Regions from separate parts of the Homo sapiens genome. Here regions 2 and 3 are each linked to region 1. The links come from fine-mapping of genetic effects on gene expression. A gene starts in region 1. Each other region holds a variant in brackets. All regions are shown on one strand. Distances are between the middles of the regions. Region 1 holds the start of GALNS (galactosamine (N-acetyl)-6-sulfatase). Region 2 overlaps CBFA2T3 (CBFA2/RUNX1 partner transcriptional co-repressor 3). Region 3 overlaps GALNS (galactosamine (N-acetyl)-6-sulfatase).

Region 1 (6,532 bases):
GGTTGTAGAAGGGGTTGCACATCACGTCTGTGTAGGAGTTGTGTAGCTTCCGGAACATCTGAAAAAGACCCAGCAAACCATGACCTTGCCACATACACACAGCCACTGCCAGATTTTTAGTTTCTCAGCATTTCAAAACAAAGTCAAAAAGGAAAAACAAAACACCCACTCGGGCGTGGCCCTCTAACTCCCTGACTTACGCTGCGAATTTCGTTGTCTCGAAGGGCTGTGTTGGAGGAATCTACCACCATGACAAACTTCACCTTGGAGTTGGTGACGTAGCCGTATCTGCACAGCTGGTTAGGGAAGGCACTCGTAACACAGGGACTGCCGGTGGAGGGCCCTCTGTGGGCCCTCACTTTGGAGAAATGTGGCAACCTTGAATCACAGGAAATGCCCATGCTGGGCTGGTCCTGCAGTGGCCGTGCTGGGTACAAGCCTAAATACTTTGCTAGGGCGACGTCTGGTGTTTGCAGGAGAAGCGAAGAGCAGGCAGCCAAGCCTTACCCAGTTCACACTCCAGGAGCCGAACCACCTAGACTCCGAGTCTGTCTGTCTGGAACACCTCACCCTCTTCATGAATCAATGCCTGGCCCGGAAAGTTAACTGCAAAACCAGAGGCTTCGTGAACAAGGCGGATCCCCTCTCTAGAGGCCACATTATTTTGTAAAATAGTGGCTACTAGCAAATGTCACCATGGACAGGCTACATGATGACTTTTGGGAAGGTCTTTGAATTCCATGGCCTCAAGTGATTTGTCCCAAGGGACTAGACGAGTGTCTAGTGACATAAGAGGCAAGGCCTAATGAAATAAATGAAACTATTATCCCCTGCTCAAAGGTGGTGGCTCCCCCTGAAAAGCACAGAAAGAAATCCTTGCAGGTACAAAGCAGAAGTGTCCCACTTCCTCTGCAAACCAGACAACGGACACGTGCAAACCAAAACATTCTACGGGGAATTCTAGCCTTGCTTTTCCCAAATGGCTCTTCCAATGAAAGAGAAGAGTTACAGGCCTTCATTCACCTCAAGCTACCCTAATTCCCTGGCTGGCTAAAAACTCTCACCTCTTTTTCTTCTAAAAGGTTTCAAGTTATCTGATCCTAAAGTACATCTTGCAACTGTAGGTCCTCCCTGACACACACCCTGCCCTGAAAGATACACCTTGTAGTCCTCCGTGGGGTAGAGCAGGCCCAGGTACAGCTCCCTCTGGTCGACCAGGGCCTTCCCCATTGCGGAGATCTTCTCATCCACCACGTCCAGAGATGTGTGCACCATGTAGTGGAACTTCAGCTCGTTCTCCGTAGGGGTGCTGCGAATGTAGAGGGGGTAATTCTGCAAGAAAGGATGACGGCGACTGAAAGGACAAGACTCCACCCAGCGCACACCAGCTCTGAACTATGCTGCAGAGCCGTGACCTGCAGCCACCCGGGGAACGCATTCCCATGCTCTAAGGCCCACCGCTTCATTCTCTATGCCGCAGTGGGCACTGCCTTCAGGGGATCCCAGCTAACCTAAGGAGATTTATGTGTTGTTTGCAAAGCAGCAGCAGTAGGGTGGGCGGAAAAGAAAAAATGAATCAGAAAAATGGGCCTGAGCACAGCCTGCCGATCAAGCCTGGCACCTGGGCACGCCTCTCACCTTCTCCTGGAGGCCACTCTGCCTCAGCCCACCTCTAACTCTGCATGGCTCACCCAAATACAGCACCCTCAATACTGGCTTTTCTTCACCTTGACAGTGACCCTTTTACTAAACCCTTCAAGACTCAGCTCAAATTCCCTTCATCTCTGCATTTCTGACCATTGGAAGCCCAGAATTAACAGCTTCTTTCTCGGTCTTTCACACACCACCATTTACCCTGTGTGTGTTCAGCACTGGGTCCTGCACAAATACAGTGAACAAGAGTCCTCGCTACCCTCGTGGGGAGTGATACCTAGTCAATAAACCCACAAACAAGCAAATGATCATCTTGGCCAAGAGGGAAGCCCATGAGCAGCTTAGCAGCAGCCACCGCCCAGCAGGGAGCGGTCTCGAGTCTGGTCTCGGGAGACCCTGGCTAGGAAATGAAGGCTCCGTGCAGCAGGAGCGTGTGGGCAGCCACCCAGCTCAGTCTTAGCCTTCAGAAAATGCTTTCCAGTTGAAATGTATGTGGGCCAGTAAAGAGGATGGGAGCTGGGGAGAGGTGTTCCGCGTGCAAAGGCCCACAGGTGAGAGGGCAGAGCATGTCCAGGGAGCTGCAGAATTGTTTGGTTGGAGCGGAGAGTGCCAAGGGTTATGGGGGGAAAGGATCCCAGAGCAGGTTATTCAGACAGCATCCTAAGGCAACGAGAAGCCACTGCAGAGGTCTCAGGCAGAGGCGTGACAGGATCCGATTTGTTTTTAACTCGGCTCCGGGGAGACTGGCAGGAGGGCCGGGGCCGCCGTCCGCGGGGAACCAGCGCTGGACGGGAGAACGGGCAGAACCTGCTGAGGACGGAGGACGGAGGTAGTGCCCGGGACCACCTAGGTTTCTGGTGGGTCCTGGCGGGGAGGAGACCTGCTGCGCCGAGGGGTGCGTTCAGCAGCGGGACGGGCGAGCGCGGAACTGGGGTCTCAGTCAGGGTCTGCCTGGCGGCTCGTCCACCGCGAAGCCCCTGACCGCTGGAGCTCGGCGAAGGCCTCCTCCAGGTCCCATTTCCTAAGGTGCCTTCTAAGCCCAGGGAAGAAGTAGAAAGAAAGCGGAGAGCCGAGGATGGTGCGAGCCCGGACGCCCCACGCCGCGCGTACGCACCTCCTTGGCAATCACCGCGATGCACACCGCCATCTTGGGAGGCTCGGCGCCAGGCACCGCGTCACGTGACCCGCCGCTGGTCACGCGGCCTCCAAAGCCCCGCCCCATCCGCACACAGCTGGCTCAGGCCCCGCCCCACTGGTCACGAGGCAGTCCAGGCCCCGCCTCCCGTCCCTCCGCGGACTCTGGCCCCGCCCCGCGAGTCACGTGGCCGTCCAGGCCCCGCCCCGCAGCCCAGCCGGAAGGGCCGGCGGACGCTCGCTAGGTCGGCTCGCTGGCCGGGGCTCCGCGGCTCCCGTGGTTGCCATGGCGGCGGTTGTCGCGGCGACGAGGTGGTGGCAGCTGTTGCTGGTGCTCAGCGCCGCGGGGATGGGGGCCTCGGGCGCCCCGCAGCCCCCCAACATCCTGCTCCTGCTCATGGACGACGTGAGTGCGGGCGGTGGGACGGGGCAGGGCCGGGGTGGGGCGGGGAGGGGAGGGGCGGATGGAGGGAGGAGCGAGGTGGGGGAAGGGCGGGCGGGGTGGGGGGAGAGGTGAGGGGAGGCCCCTTGGGGAAGGGGGGAGGCCCCGCGCGGGGAGGAGGAGGGGGAGGGGACGGGGGGTATCCCCGTGCGGGGAGGGGGAGGCCCCTCGGGGAGTGGCCGCGGGGTCCAGGCGTGGGGTCTCGGCGGTCACCGATCACCACACGCGCTGCCACTGTGCTGCATGACCGGGACAGCGTCCTCCCTGGCAGGTGGGTGGCCGGCGTGCTACCGGGCCCTGCCTCCCCCGTCTGACCTTTCCCGCCCTCTACTCTTGGGAAAGGTGGGCGCGCAGCGTGGCCTCCCCAAAGGGAGGAAGAGGCTGCTCCTGCCGCCCTGCCTGAGAGCTGCGTCGCCCTAGGAATCACTCCCGCCACCTCGGGCCGCCGGGTCCCCCCGCTGGGCTCCAGTCTTACCTGACGGCTGTCTCTGTCCTCTGGAGAATGCTGAGCGAAGGTCAGGTGTCCCTAAGGTCTGAAGAACTGAAAGGCTGGAATGTCTCCTGGTGGGCAAGTGCGGGGTCAGGGGTCACAGCCAGCCTGGAGGCCTCCTTCCCTAACTCCTTGTGGGAGCCACCTGGAGACTCAGGAATGAGCCTGCCTGGGGCATGGGTCACCGTGCAGGACCCCAGACACACCTGGGTTGAAACCCTACTGTCTCCAAGCTTGGGGGTCACTTCCATTCTTGAACCTCAGCTGCCACACCTGGGGGGTTACACCTGTCCCGCCGTGCTCACGTTGTGTGTGAGGACTGGGACGACACCGAGTACCAGACAGTTTTGGGCCGTCGGTGTCGCTCAGCCCCTGTGTGCTGGCTCCGACCAGCAGAGACCCTGACAGGTGCCTTCAGACCCACCTGTGCTGACCAGTGGGGGCCACGGGCCACACCCAAGGGCTGGGCAGTCGTGGCTGTCGGAATTGGAAGGTGCTGGTAGTGTAAAATACACAGATTTAGAAGACTTGGTGAAAGAAAAATAATGTAAAATATCTCACTTAACAATTTTATTAAATTAATGGTTTTTTAACATAAAGATATACTTGAAAAGATAACAGACACCACCCATAATTTCCCCACCCAGGGGTGACAGCCGACAGTCCTGGGCAGCTGCTTTTCCATCTCATATGTCTTATTTGTGTGCAGTGACTGCTTTCCAGAGCACGCTCTCCAGCGCCCAGGGGTCCGTGTCCTGACAGCAGTAGCCGGGCCTTTCTCTGCACTGAGTGGCATCTCCCTCCTAAAGATACTTTGCTTCAGAATTTCATCCTTTCACTTTTGAAGTTCCTCTGGGCCAGTGTAGATACTTTGTTTCAGAATTTCTTCTTTTCATTGTGTAACTCCTTCTGGGCCAGCATAGCTTCGCTGGATGAGCTGGGCTCTGCAGGTGAAGCCTCCCTGTTAAGTTTCTGCTTTTCCTGACTTTCTCAGAGGACAGAGGGGTGAGGCGGGGCAGCTCATGAATAATTTTTTATGTTGAAGACTTGTCGAAATAATATTTTGGTTATGTTGGGTTAAATAAAATATAAAGTTAGTCTGTATTTCACCTACTTCTGCTTTTCTAATGTGGCTCCCGGTAAATAGGGAATTGCATGTGGACTCACCCTACGTTTCCATAGGACAGCAAGGGTTCAGGCCGTGCAGGGTGGAGGGGTGGGGTGTGGCCACCGGGGCACATGTGGGGGAGGGTGACAGGAAGCCCCGCCCACCTGGGCACCTGTTCTGTGGCCTCCACTGTGTGGCTTGTGGGGTCGTTTGGCAGCTGACGCCTAAAGAACCCCAGAGGAGCTGTGTCCTGGCCGGTAGGTGTACTTGTAAGGACTTTCTGATGCAGACAGCAGAAGATGAAGTCAAAGTGACAAGCAACAGTGGGGATTCCCTGGCCCTCCTGAGTCGACAGACCAGGGCCGCCTGGCGAGTTTCCCCTTTCGTGGCTCTGCTGCCTCTGAACTGGCCACATCCTCACTCAGCCTGTGATGGTCCTAGGTGACTCCAAGTCACCCCTGCAGTCAGCAGACCCAGTGGGAGGTTGGCTCTGCCCGTGTCATGTTAGCGTGATGTGGGTCTCAGCCCTGCGCCAAGCACACTGGGGGAGGGGCACATGCTGACCTGTCCAGCCCAGGCCTCGGAGCCTCGGGCCTACCCCAGAAGGGAGACTGCCCCTGATCATCTCATCTGCCTGGACCCAGCAGAGAGGGGGTTCCCTGAAGGGCCCATGGTGCAGCTGCCAGGACAGGGCAGGGATGCTGGCAGGTGAGAGCCACAGAAGCTCACAGTGGAGCCCCGAGGTGCCCTGACGTGGCCCAGGGTGCAAGGGGGTCCTCACAGGCTGTCTTCTCTCCTTGGAGTCCGGGGCTTCCTCCGCAGCCCTGTCCACACCTCTTCCTGCACTGCAGACCGGTTGTTTCTGCCAGGGCGCTGGCGTCTGAACCTGCAACAGGTCATTCGGCCTCTGGCATGACATGGGATGGCTTGATGACCCACAGCTCTGGGCCCAGCACCACTTGAGGACGAGTGTGCATGTCTCAAGTTCAGATTTTGGAGCATGGCCCTCCAGGGACCGGCTGCCTCCAGCCCAGTCTCCCCCTATCCAGTCCTCTGTGGCTGGGCAGTGGGGGGCCTGGGCCCCCCTTTCGTCTAAGCAAGTGCAGTTTCAGAAAAGGGTTGTCCCCAAAACTAGCTTATTGCACCCCTCATGGCCAGAAGCCACTCTCCAACTGGTCACACTGACCCGGGAGAGAACCATTGCCCCCAGAGTCGGGACCAGAAGGGGAAGCTGGGACTCAGGGGTGAGAGCAGCTGGCAAGAGCCCCCACCTGTCCAGGGGGAGCTGAGCCGGGCAAGGACGGGTCTACCTGCACTCCCCAGGGCTGCCCTGCCCTGGCCTTTCACTGACCCACGGTCCAGCGCGGCCTGGCTTCGTAGTACCCTGGGCACCTGCTGCGTGAGTGAGGAAACCTGCGTGGCCCACTCTGCTCTCCAGGGCTTCTGGGGCCTTGGAGACAGGTGAGACCCAGTGACAAGTTCCACTCTGGCCCACACACAGCTCCTGCCTCCCAGGGCGAGCAGCACTCTGTGTCTCCACTCCTTATTTGGAAAATAGGGTTAAGGAGGGTCAGCCCTGACCACAGAGGAAGTGGAGAGTCAGGGCCACCCAGGCCAGCTCCTGTTGCCACAGCAGCCTCGTCGAGCCACCAGAGTCCGGGGAGGGTTGCTCAGTGCCCCTCGTTTGAAACAGACAAGCACTGGC
Region 2 (5,000 bases), 23 kb before region 1:
ACCCCCACGCACACAGCCACGCCCACGCACACAGCCACACCCACACACAGCCATACACACACAGCCACACCCACACACACAGCCATACCCATGCACACAACCCCCCCATGTACACAGCCACACCCACGCACAGCCATGCCCACACACAGCTACACCCACACAGCCATGTCCCCACACAGCCACACCTGTATGCCTATGCATAAACACGGCCATGGCTCTGCCCCATGGGGCCTGGGGCTGCTGGAGACAGCAGGGCTGTGTGGGCGCCCCTGAGCTCAGTGCCCTCCTGTGTGGCCTGCGCCGTCCCTGCGCAGCGGCTGGGTCCTTCACCTGAGCCCCCCTCCTCCCAGCTGTCAGCGCAGCCCAGGCATCTCGAGAGGCCCAGGGAGGAGGATTCCTAAAACCCTCATGGCGGGCCTTGCTTCCCTCCACTTACTTTCTGCTCACTGGCTCTTCCCAGAGTCTATCCTGAGTCTTGCAAGAAGTGTGGGCAAAAGCAGTGCCGAGGCCTCTTTGAGGCAGGACGTGTTCGGGGACGGCCCGGAACTGGGCTCCTCAGAACCCACCCACCCCATCCTGCAGCACGTCCCAGGAGGGGTCGCCAGGCATGGGGCCAGCACCCCTCCCAGCACTGTTGTCAGCCTCGCCCCTCGCCCTCATGCTTTTTGGAAGGGGAGCCCAGGCGGAAAGCCAGGTCCCTGAGGCAGAGCCCCGCTGAGCGGGTTAAAAAGGAGAATCCCAAACTCCTGCGTGCGTCTAGGCACGTGTCCATGTGAGTCTGGTACCCCCAGGCGCTCGGCAGTCCCAGGCTAGGGACCCATCTTTGCAAGCCATGGAGGTGGGCCCTCCCTCACCCCCTTACTCTCACGGGCGGTGGGCTGGTCGGGCACCCATCCTGTCCGGGGCTCTGGCCGAGTGGGCTGGGGGAGTGTCTGGTGCGTCCCGGTCCCTCTGAGGTGCTGAAGGCTGCGCCGCCCGCCCCCAGCTCCTGAACTGCATCATGGACATGGTGGAGAAGACGCGGCGCTCGCTCACGGTGCTGCGCAGGTGCCAGGAGGCCGACCGCGAGGAGCTCAACCACTGGGCGCGGCGCTACAGCGACGCCGAGGACACAAAGAAGGGCCCCGCTCCCGCCGCGGCCCGGCCCCGCAGCAGCTCCGCCGGTCCCGAAGGGCCTCAGCTAGGTGCGTGTGGGGTGTGGGGGGAGGGAGCAGACACGGGGTGCTCTGGTGGGGCGGACACCTGGGAGCTGTCAGGCAGGCAATGCAACGAAACACCAGGCAGAACAGTTTCGCTTGAGAAAGAGGCACCTTTTTCACTTTGTAGGAAAACACGGGCTGGTCTGCCAGGAAGCCTGGAGCTCAGAGCGTCTGGTGGGCCAGAGGCTCGGAGCTGGGAGGCCCTGAGGGTCTCTGCTTCTCCGCCTCAGCGACGAATGCTGACACAGGAGAGGCCCAGGACACACACGGCTCCCAGCCGAGTCCAAGGTCCACAGCTCCAATGCCCCCCGTGCCCGGGCACTGCCCTGGGTGCCTGAGCCAGACCTTGTCCGAGGGCACCTGGGCCTCCCCCCAGGGACGCACACACTCACGCCCTGCACTCAGGGCCCAGCCAGGGTGGGGAGGGCCCCAGCGTGGGAGGGGCAGCCGCGTGGCCCATCCTGTGTGACGCCGGCCCCTGTTTCAGACGTGCCTCGCGAGTTCCTGCCGAGGACCCTCACCGGCTACGTGCCTGAGGACATCTGGAGGAAGGCTGGTGAGTGGGGGTGCAGGGGCCTGGCCAGCAGAGCTGTGGGAGGCCAGGGCCCCAGATGCGCCTCTCACCGGCTCAGCTTTGAAGAGCTTCTGTCTCTCTCTGGGGGCTCAGGCTACAAGGCTTTCTGCATTCCGCTGTGTGGCTCACGGAGAGGTCAGAGTAGGTTCACACTTAGGGCAGGACAGCTGCTACCTGCGCCTACCAGGAAACGGACCGGTGGCCGCCCAGCAGAATAAAGTGGGTCCTGGACCTGCACACCCAGGAGGGCACGCAGAAGCGCACACACTCGGAGCCTGGGCGCGTCAGGCACGCGGGGCCAGAGTCCGGGCAGAATGGGGTCAGAACAGGGGCAGACGTGGAGCTGAGCGCTGGGCAAGGCTGTGGGGACATTTGCTCATGCCGTGGGAATCAGCCTTGGGGGAGGGGCTGGGGCAGAGCCAGATATGTGGGCAGCAAGAGGGGTTAGGGTTGGGGTTAGGGTTAGGGTTAGGGTTGGGCAGCGGTACCGGGGTCTCCAGCTGGCCTCAGGGTCTCTTTCAGTGGTGGAGTTGAAACATGGCCTCCCCAGCTGCGTGGGCAGTGCTCCCTGGAGGCTGCTCTGAGCCTACCCCATCTTAGCACAGATCAGGATCTGTGTGTGGCTGTGTGTGGGTCGGGGAGCATGGTCTTCAGAGGCCAGCCAGGTTAAAGGATGGCAAGTGCGGTGAGGATAACAGCAGGGTCTGGGGTGACAGCACAGAGCCCTGGACGAGGGGGCTTCCTGGGCTGCGTCTGGGTGGGGCCAGAGGTGAAGGCGGAACGGCAGAGTTATCCAAGTGCTTCAGGTCAGCAGCAGCTCCCCCGGCTCGCGTTAGGAATGCAGATTCCGGGTGCGCCCCTGGCTGACCAGGCCCTGGGGTGGGCCTCGCCCTTGCCCTGCAGGGGTGCAGTGCCTGGGGAGCCGCTGCGGTAGAGTGCAAGCTTTGACTTGTGACACCACGTGACCCAGCTTTGCACACACATGCCTGGGATGCCTGTGTTTATTTGCATGCACTTGTCTGCACAGGCATGAGGGCCATCAACGTGTGTCTGTGTGTGCACAGATGCTACGTGTGTTCAGCTGCCTACAGCCCCATCAACATGTGCCTTTGTGTGCACAGATGGTACGTGTGTTCAGCTGCACACAGCCC[CTG/G]TCCCCAGGTTGTGGCCACGCGTAGGAAGTCCAGAGACCCATCTGGGATGGCCCATGTGACCGCCAGCCCTGCCCATGTCCTTTGCAGAAGAGGCCGTGAATGAGGTGAAGCGGCAGGCCATGTCGGAGCTGCAGAAAGCCGTGTCGGACGCGGAGCGCAAAGCGCACGAGCTCATCACCACGGAGCGTGCCAAGATGGAGCGGGCCCTGGCCGAGGCGAAGCGGCAGGCCTCCGAGGACGCCCTGACGGTCATCAACCAGCAGGAGGACTCCAGCGAGGTAGGGCCACCCGGCCACGCTGACACCCATCCCCTGCCTCGGCTCCCGTGCGGTCCCACGCCACCCCCATGAGGATTCTGAGCCTCCACGTGGCATCAGCACAGTTGTCACGGGCATCCTGCAGCAGGCACGCCATCCCCGCCCACACTGTGCTTTATCAGCACAGAGATCCCACATGGTTCAGTGAGGCGTCCTATGGATGTCCCCGTTCTGTAGTTCCAGAAACTGAGGGCTCGAGAGGGTTGGCAGCTTGTCTGAGGTCACGGCCTTGGGAAGCGGTGGGGCCAGGACTCGAGCCCAGGTTGGCTGATGCTGAGATGGAGTTTCACTCTTGTTGCCCAGACTGAAGTGATCTTGTTGCTGTGGCATGACCTCGGCTCATTACAACCTCCGCCTCCCGGGTTCAAGCGGTTCTCCTGCCTCAGCCTCCCAAGTAGCTGGGATTACAGGCGCCCGCCACCACACCTGGCTAATTTTTGTATTTTTAGTAGAGATGGGGTTTTGCCACGTAGGCCAGGCTGGTCTCGAACTCCTGACCTCAGGTGATCCACCCGCCTCGGCATCCCAAAGTGCTGGGATGACAGAAGCGAGCCGCTGTGCCTGGCCTGAAACCCGTGTTCTCTAGCCTGTGAGAACAGGAGGATCCAGGAGAGCTGTGAGGGCCCCAGGTGGCGTCCGAGGCGCCCGGCTCCCTCCCGGTGCACACGGCAGGCCTGAGAATTACGATGCTTGTGCCCGTGCACCTGGGAGGCAGGCGGGGGCAGAGGACCCTCCGCGACCCTTTTCTGCCTTGTCCACGAAGAGGGGACAGGGAGAGACCCTTTCCAGGGGAGCCCCAGGACTGTCCCTTGAGATAGGGCGGATCTCTATCTGAAGCCCCTGTGTGCATCTGTGCCTGGGCCAGCCCCGGGGTGGGAGGAGATGGAGCCCCATCGATTCAGGGGTCTCTGCACCGGCCATTTCCACGCCTGCTCTCAGCTAGGGAGAAGCTAGACCACCACAGGCACAACTCTCACAGAGCTGGCACTGAGAAGGAAACACCAAACGCAGAAGTGAGGCGTGCAGTTTCGGGAGGTGGAAGTGTGTGGGGAGTGGGGCTGTGGAGGCCTCACGGCAGGTGACACCTGAGCAGATGCCGGGAGGAATGAAGCTGGCCACGCAGGCATCGGGGGAGCGGGCCCAGCGGAGGGACCGGCAGGGGCCAGGGCCTGGAGCGGGGACTGTGCCTGGCAGTGCCTAGTCCGCAGGGAAGCTGCTGCTGCAGTGGCAGTGAGGGCGAGGTGGGGTGGGAGGTGGTACCAGAGGCTTTGGAGGCCAAATAGGGACCTGGGCTTCTCCCCTAGGGCAGGTTTGGGCTTCCCACCCCACAGCCCAACCGTCTGTGAGAGATCCAGCCAGGCCCCAAGAAGAAATATGCTCAGGCTTTGTGTGGCATCTCCTACCTGCTCTGCCCACAGGCTTTTTGTGGCATCCCCCACCCCCTCTGCCCACAGGGATGCCTAGGGCACAACTCACCCTACGGGAAGGGAGCAGAGCCCACCACAGGGTGGGGGCAGAGGTGGAGGGGGTGCAGCAGAGGCAGGGGTGGGGCAGAGGTGGGGAGGGGGACGGGTGGGTGTGGATGCAGCAGAGGCGGATGGTGAGATCTCAGCAGCCTCAATCCTGCCGGGGCCACGCCCTTTGGTTTTGCGGTTTTGGAGCCTGGTGAGCTCAGGAGGGCTTCCTGGAGAGGAGGCAGGGGTCGTTGTCCAGTTAGCACAGCGCAGACCTATCTGGGTGGGCTGGAGCGTGAGAC
Region 3 (6,040 bases), 25 kb after region 1:
GGGGCCGGCACCCCAGACCCCGAGCAGCCCTGTGAGTGTGGCCTGGACCTGGTCACCCAGGGGCCGGGCTGCCTCCATGAAGATGGACTCCTGCCCCCACCACAGCCCTGTCAAGTGGTTCCTGGGATGGAGCTTCAGCCTTTCCCCCGCTCGGCACTGATGAATGCCTGACCCATCCCCAGCGCCAACAAACCTGAACCCGCCTCTTCCCAGACCACGCGGGGGGGGGCCCTGCAGCCTCTTCCCAGACCACACGGGGGGGGCCCTACAGCCTCTTCCCAGACCACGCTGAGGGGGGCCCTGCAGCCTCTTCCCAGACCACGCGGTGGGGAGAGCCCTACAGCCTCTTCCCAGACCACGCTGAGGGGGGCCCTGCAGCCTCTTCCCAGACCACACGGGGGGGGCCCTACAGCCTCTTCCCAGACCACGCTGAGGGGGGCCCTGCAGCCTCTTCCCAGACCACGCGGGGGGGCCCTGCAGCCTCTTCCCAGACCACGCGGGGGGGGGCCCTGCAGCCTCTTCCCAGACCACGTGGTGGGGAGAGCCCTACAGCCTCGTCCCAGACCATGTCGGGGGGCGCCTACAGCCCAGTGTGCTGCGGGGATTGGGGGCTTCAGAGTTTCAAGTGATAGAAACCAGCACAGCTGAAAGCCAAAACAGAAGCATAGGCTCCCTCGCGCCACGTCCCACCAGATAGCTCCCCTGGGTGAGCCTGGCTCTCGTGCAGGCCCTCCGGACAGCTCCATCTCCCGCCCACTGGAGTCAGACCCACGAGTCGAGGCCCCCAACAGACCCATGTGTGGAGGGCTACAGGCAGCTCCCAGGAGGCAGGGTGCTGGGTGGGGGGAGGGTGGTGTTGGCCGTCATTCCCCATGGGGAGCCCGGGGGGGCCCACCTCGACGCCAGCACCCACAACCACCAGCCAGCAGGGGCAAGGGTCCCAGCGACCTGAGTCTTCATTTCTAAATGATGGAATGTTTCATACCAACAAATGGCATGTTTCATACCAACAAATGGTATATGTACCTATTTGTAACAAGATGAGAACCCACACACCCAGCACCCAGCACAAGACTAGAAACAGAACATCCCAGAGAAAGAAAGCAGGGGAGGGGGCTGGGCGTGGTGGCTCACACCTGTAATCCCAGCACTTTGGGAGGCTGAGGCGGGTGGATCACGAGGTCAGGAGGTCGAGACCATCCTGGCTAACACGGTGAAACCCCATCTCTACTGAAAAACAAAAAATTAGCCAGGCGTGGTGGCGGGCACCTGTAGTCCCAGCTGCTGGGCAGGCTAAGTCAAGAGAATGACTTGAACCCGGGAGGCGGAGCTTGCAGTGAGCCGAGATCGCACCACTGCACTCCAGCCTGGGCGACAGAGCGAGACTCCATGTCAAAAAAAAAAAAAAAGGGGATGGGAGAGAGAAGGAAAGAAAGGGAGGGAGGGAAGGAGAAGAAGCACAGCATGGCCTCCTGTGAGCCTGAGTGTCCCCTAGAAGTGGCCAGTGTCCCCAGCTCAGTGTCCATTGTCCCTTCACAGGTTCTGTGGCTCTGCTGCTGTGAGCAGGGCCCTCCCTGAGACAGGCCGGGTTGCGGGTGTTGGCGTGTTTGCCCGTGAGGGGCTCTGAGCAGAGCTGCCTGCGAGGTTCCGTTCAGAGGCTTCCCCACGCTGCCGCTCGGGGTTGGATGGCAGCGCAGGAAGGAGCTGCGGTGACTTTGCCTCCCCTGGATGGTTCACTTTTTCACTGCCGGAAAAATATTTTCTTTTTTTTTTTTTTTTTTTTTTTGAGAAGGAGTCTCGCTCTGTTGCCCAGGCTGGAGTGCAGTGGCGCGATCTCAGCTCACTGTAGCCTTGACCTCCTGGGCTCCAGCAATCCTCCCACCTCAGCCTCCTGAGTAGCTGGGACTACAGGACGTGCCGCCACACCCAGCTAATTTTTGTATTTTTGTAGAGATGGGGTTTAGCCGTGGTCTCTCTTTGGTAGAAACCAGTCTAGGCTAGTCTTGAACTCCCGAGTTCAAGCAGTCCCCCTGCTTCGGCCTCCCAAGGTACTGGGATGACAGGTATGAGCCACCGCAGCCGGCCCCTTCGTTTCCTTTTTCCCTTTTATTCAGGGGACCCGAAGCTGAGAGAGCCTCAAGTGGCTCAGGCTACAGCAGCAGGGGTGGCTTTTGTCCCTGACGTGGGCCCCCCACCCCCTTCTTCCATGTCTGGGAGTGAGCCAGGGATGGTGTAGTCACCTGAGATGGCCTTTGCCCCGTGACCACTTCCCACAAGTGATGGTTCAGAAACCAAAATCCGGTCTTGGGGGCTTGTCAGAAACACAGATTCCTACGCCCCACCGTGACTGACTGAGTCAGAACCATGGGGAGGCCAGAAGTTGGCTGCATTTTAAGTACCCCAAACACCGGGAGGCTTGTGAACATTCACGTTCGGGAAGCACCAGTCGGCAGCTGCGCACGTGGCACCCAGGGCCTCTGCTGCGGGAGTGTACCTCTCTGAGTCTTGCTGACACCGTATGGTTGTGTTTCCATTTCCTCAGTGGGCATGATGTCCCCACTTTCTCCAGGAGACTTTGCAGCCGCGGCATCTCAGATGAGCCCCTGGAGAGCCACCCCGAGGCTCGGATCATGCACTCCAGCCAGAGTGCCTTGGCCGGGCCCTTTGTCCCTATGACCAGTCTCAGTGACTCAGTGGGGAGGGAGGGGGAGGGCCTGGGGACATCTGGTCCCAGTGGCCTGACAAGGGCCCCTCTCTCCCAGGTGGCAGCAACGGCCCCTTTCTGTGTGGGAAGCAGACCACGTTTGAAGGAGGGATGAGGGAGCCTGCCCTCGCATGGTGGCCAGGGCACGTCACTGCAGGCCAGGTGAGTCAGCGTCCAC[C/T]GGTCTGCCGGGCAGCAGGTCCAGGCCTGCAGCCATCCCAGGGTGTGTGCGCCCCTCACTGGCCACCTCCCCCATGCACCCCGTGCTCATCCTCACCGCTCTCCTCCCCACGCACCCTGTGCTCAGCCTCCACGCACCCCATGCTCAGCCTCACCACCCTCCTCCCCACGCTCCCCGTGCTCGGCCTCACCGCTCTCCTCCCCACGCACCCCGTGCTCGGCCTCACCGCTCTCCTCCCCACGCACCCCGTGCTCGGCCTCACCGCTCTCCTCCCCACGCACCCCGTGCTCGGCCTCACCGCTCTCCTCCCCACGCACCCCGTGCTCGGCCTCACCGCTCTCCTCCCCACGCTCCCCGTGCTCGGCCTCACCGCTCTCCTCCCCACGCACCCCGTGCTCGGCCTCACCGCTCTCCTCCCCACGCACCCCGTGCTCGGCCTCACCGCTCTCCTCCCCACGCACCCCGTGCTCGGCCTCACCGCTCTCCTCCCCACGCACCCCGTGCTCGGCCTCACCGCTCTCCTCCCCACGCACCCCGTGCTCGGCCTCACCGCTCTCCTCCCCACGCACCCCGTGCTCGGCCTCACCGCTCTCCTCCCCACGCACCCCGTGCTCGGCCTCACCGCTCTCCTCCCCACGCTCCCCGTGCTCGGCCTCACCGCTCTCCTCCCCACGCACCCCGTGCTCGGCCTCACCGCTCTCCTCCCCACGCACCCCGTGCTCGGCCTCACCGCTCTCCTCCCCACGCACCCCGTGCTCGGCCTCACCGCTCTCCTCGGAACCAGGTCCCTCTCGGTGGCTCTCGGTGTGTAGGGCTTGCTGTGCTTGGTCAGACAGGCAGGAAGGCTCTCGGTGGGGACTGGAGCCACGTATACTGCCGTGTGTCACGTGGGTGCTGGTAATGACTGTGTGGTGAGGAGACATCCGTGGTCCAGTCACCGCAGCAGTCCTGAGTTAAATGGAGCTAAACAGGTTTCTTCCCTGCAGGACTTATCAGTGCCTTTAGCATGCTGGTGGGCACCATGAGCTTCTAGAAGGGGCTTAGAGCAGGCTGAGTGTTTAAAAACCTGTCTGTCTACTACAGAATCGGTCGTTTTTTCCCCCAAAGCACATCTTCTCAGGCCAGTGTCCTAAGGACACTCAGAGAACAGCAGCAGCCCGACACGAGACCGTTGGTGTCTGTCTGCCGCATGGGGTGCGGACCTCGGTGGTGGCCTGGGTCCTGGCTGGGCGAGGGTGCGCCCTGCCATCTCAGTGTGACCACCTTCATGCTGTCACTGCATCTCCTCTGGCCCAGGAAGCTGCCCCTCGGTTGAGAATCACACCGTGTGGTCTTCTGTAACAGGCACTTGAGCCAGACATACCCATCAACACGCGGGGCTGAGTCTGGTGTTTGTAAACGACCGCTGTTTCTTCACTGTTTCTTAGTCTTTTGCCCTCCCAATGGCCTCCAGAGGCAGCCATCCCCTTCAAGTGGCCCCACGAGGATGGGGGGGGCTCCCAGTGGCAGCTGGAACATCACACATGACGACAGCCAGAGTCAACATGGGGCTCATGGGGCTGAGTGAAGACGTGCGTGGGGCCAGCTCCTTCTGGAGGCTCCAGGAGATGTTCTGTTCCCTGCCTTTTCCCAATCCTAGTAGCTGCCCCATTCCTGAGCTCCTGGCCCCTCCACCGTCAAAGCCAGCAGCACGCAGGCATCTGTCCCTGGCCTTCCTGTTCCACGTTTTTTTTTTTTTTTTTTTTTTTTTTGAGATGAAGTCTCACTCTGTTGCCCAGGCTGGAGTGCAGTAGTGCAATCTCGGCTCACTGCAACTTCTACCTCCCAGATTCAAGCGATTCTCCTGCCTCAGCCTCCCGAGTAGCTGGGACTACAGGCATGCTCTACCATGCCCGGCTAATTTTTGTATTTTTAGTAGAGACGGAGTTTCACTATGTTGGCCAGTATGGTCTCAATCTCCTGACCTCGTGATCTGCCCGCCTCGGCCTCCGAAAGTGTTGGGATTACAGGCGTGAGCCACCGCGCCCGGCGCCTGTTCCACTTTTGAGGACCCTGTGGCTGTGTCCCACCCCACCCCCTGCTCACCCAGGCTGGCCTCCCTGTTTCGAGCCTCGCTGATGAGCGGCCTGCGTTGTGTCTGCCGCCTCAATTGCCTGGCCTGGTCGCGCGCCTGAAGGCCCAGGGATTGGCTGCTGTTCTGCCAGATCCTCCTCTTCCCCACTCATTCTACACATCAGGAAACTGAGGCCAGAGAGGAAGTCGTCTGTCAGGGTCCCCCAATTACTAGGGAGCAGAGGTGGGAGCAGGCGCCTGGCTGTGGATCCTGCACTCCTGCCCACCATGCCTGGGCAGTCCCCTGTGTCCCCAGCAGCCAGTGGGACTGGGGGCGGCAACTGCCAAGGGCGCCTGTTCTCTACAGCTGTCTGGGCCTCCCTCAGACCCTGCCCAGGGCAGCCTTTGTCTGACATGGGACTCCTGGGCCACCCCAAGTTCCCAGGACCCTGAAGGTGGAAGAGACCCCACGGTTCACTGAAAAGGCAGCTGCGGCTCCGTGTGAAGGGCAGAGTGGCTGTGAGAGTGACCGCCTTGTTGTGCAGGAGAAGCATGGGTGGTGGGCACGGCCTCCTTTGTGGTGTGGGGTGCCCCTAGGACAGAATGCAGCTGTGCCGCCCCCTCCACTCCCCTGAGCGCCATCCCCCTGAGGGTAGGGATGGGCCATTTGGTTTCTTGTGTGGGGGCACCTGCAGGGAGTGGCCGGTGGTCACTCAGTGAACACTGTGACGTTGGCATGAGACTCAGGAACTGTGTAGCTCTGGGAGACGTTGGCATGAGACTCGGGACCCGCGTAGCTCTGGGAGACGTTGGCATGAGACTCAGGAACTGTGTAGCTCTGGGAGACGTTGGCATGAGACTCGGGACCCGTGTAGCTCTGGGAGACGTTGGCGTGAGACTCGGGACCCGCGTAGGTCTGGGAGACGATGGCGTGAGACCCGGGACCCGCGTAGGTCTGGGAGACGATGGCATGAGACTCGGGACCTGCGTAGGTCTGGGAGATGTGAGGTTCCCCACTGCAGTGGGTGCCCACCAGGCCGGGACAGGGCTGGGGCTCTGCTCCCCAGGCTGGGAGCCACCCGTGGCTGTGCTCAGCAGCAGCCTGG

Evidence for each region. PIP is the estimated chance that this variant, and not a neighbour inherited with it, causes the effect.
Region 2: its variant is fine-mapped to the expression of GALNS in whole blood (INTERVAL, PIP 0.96).
Region 3: its variant is fine-mapped to the expression of GALNS in whole blood (TOPMed, PIP above 0.99).

Annotation. Positions count from the first base shown.
Region 1 is chr16:88,853,419-88,859,950 of GRCh38, reverse strand. GALNS (galactosamine (N-acetyl)-6-sulfatase) reads left to right here and starts at 3,004. Exons shown (of 14, transcript NM_000512.5): 1 at 3,004-3,193. The coding sequence starts at 3,074. It overlaps TRAPPC2L (trafficking protein particle complex subunit 2L), which reads right to left and starts at 2,824. Exons shown (of 5, transcript NM_001318525.2): 1 at 2,768-2,824; 2 at 1,160-1,332; 3 at 201-288; 4 at 1-58. The coding sequence starts at 2,800. It overlaps LOC107983950 (a long non-coding RNA gene), which reads left to right and starts at 3,371. Exons shown (of 2, transcript XR_933884.3): 1 at 3,371-3,500; 2 at 3,650-4,823. RefSeq lists silencers at 2,872-3,271, 4,941-5,010.
Region 2 is chr16:88,877,475-88,882,474 of GRCh38, reverse strand. It overlaps CBFA2T3 (CBFA2/RUNX1 partner transcriptional co-repressor 3), which reads left to right. Exons shown (of 12, transcript NM_005187.6): 9 at 986-1,184; 10 at 1,687-1,755; 11 at 3,015-3,205. Among named protein-coding and RNA genes, the nearest start is that of PABPN1L, 13 kb to the right of the region's middle. The variant CTG/G (reference allele first, on the strand shown) is at 2,925.
Region 3 is chr16:88,828,824-88,834,863 of GRCh38, reverse strand. It overlaps GALNS (galactosamine (N-acetyl)-6-sulfatase), which reads left to right. Exons shown (of 14, transcript NM_000512.5): 9 at 2,763-2,866. Among named protein-coding and RNA genes, the nearest start is that of APRT, 20 kb to the right of the region's middle. The variant C/T (reference allele first, on the strand shown) is at 2,883.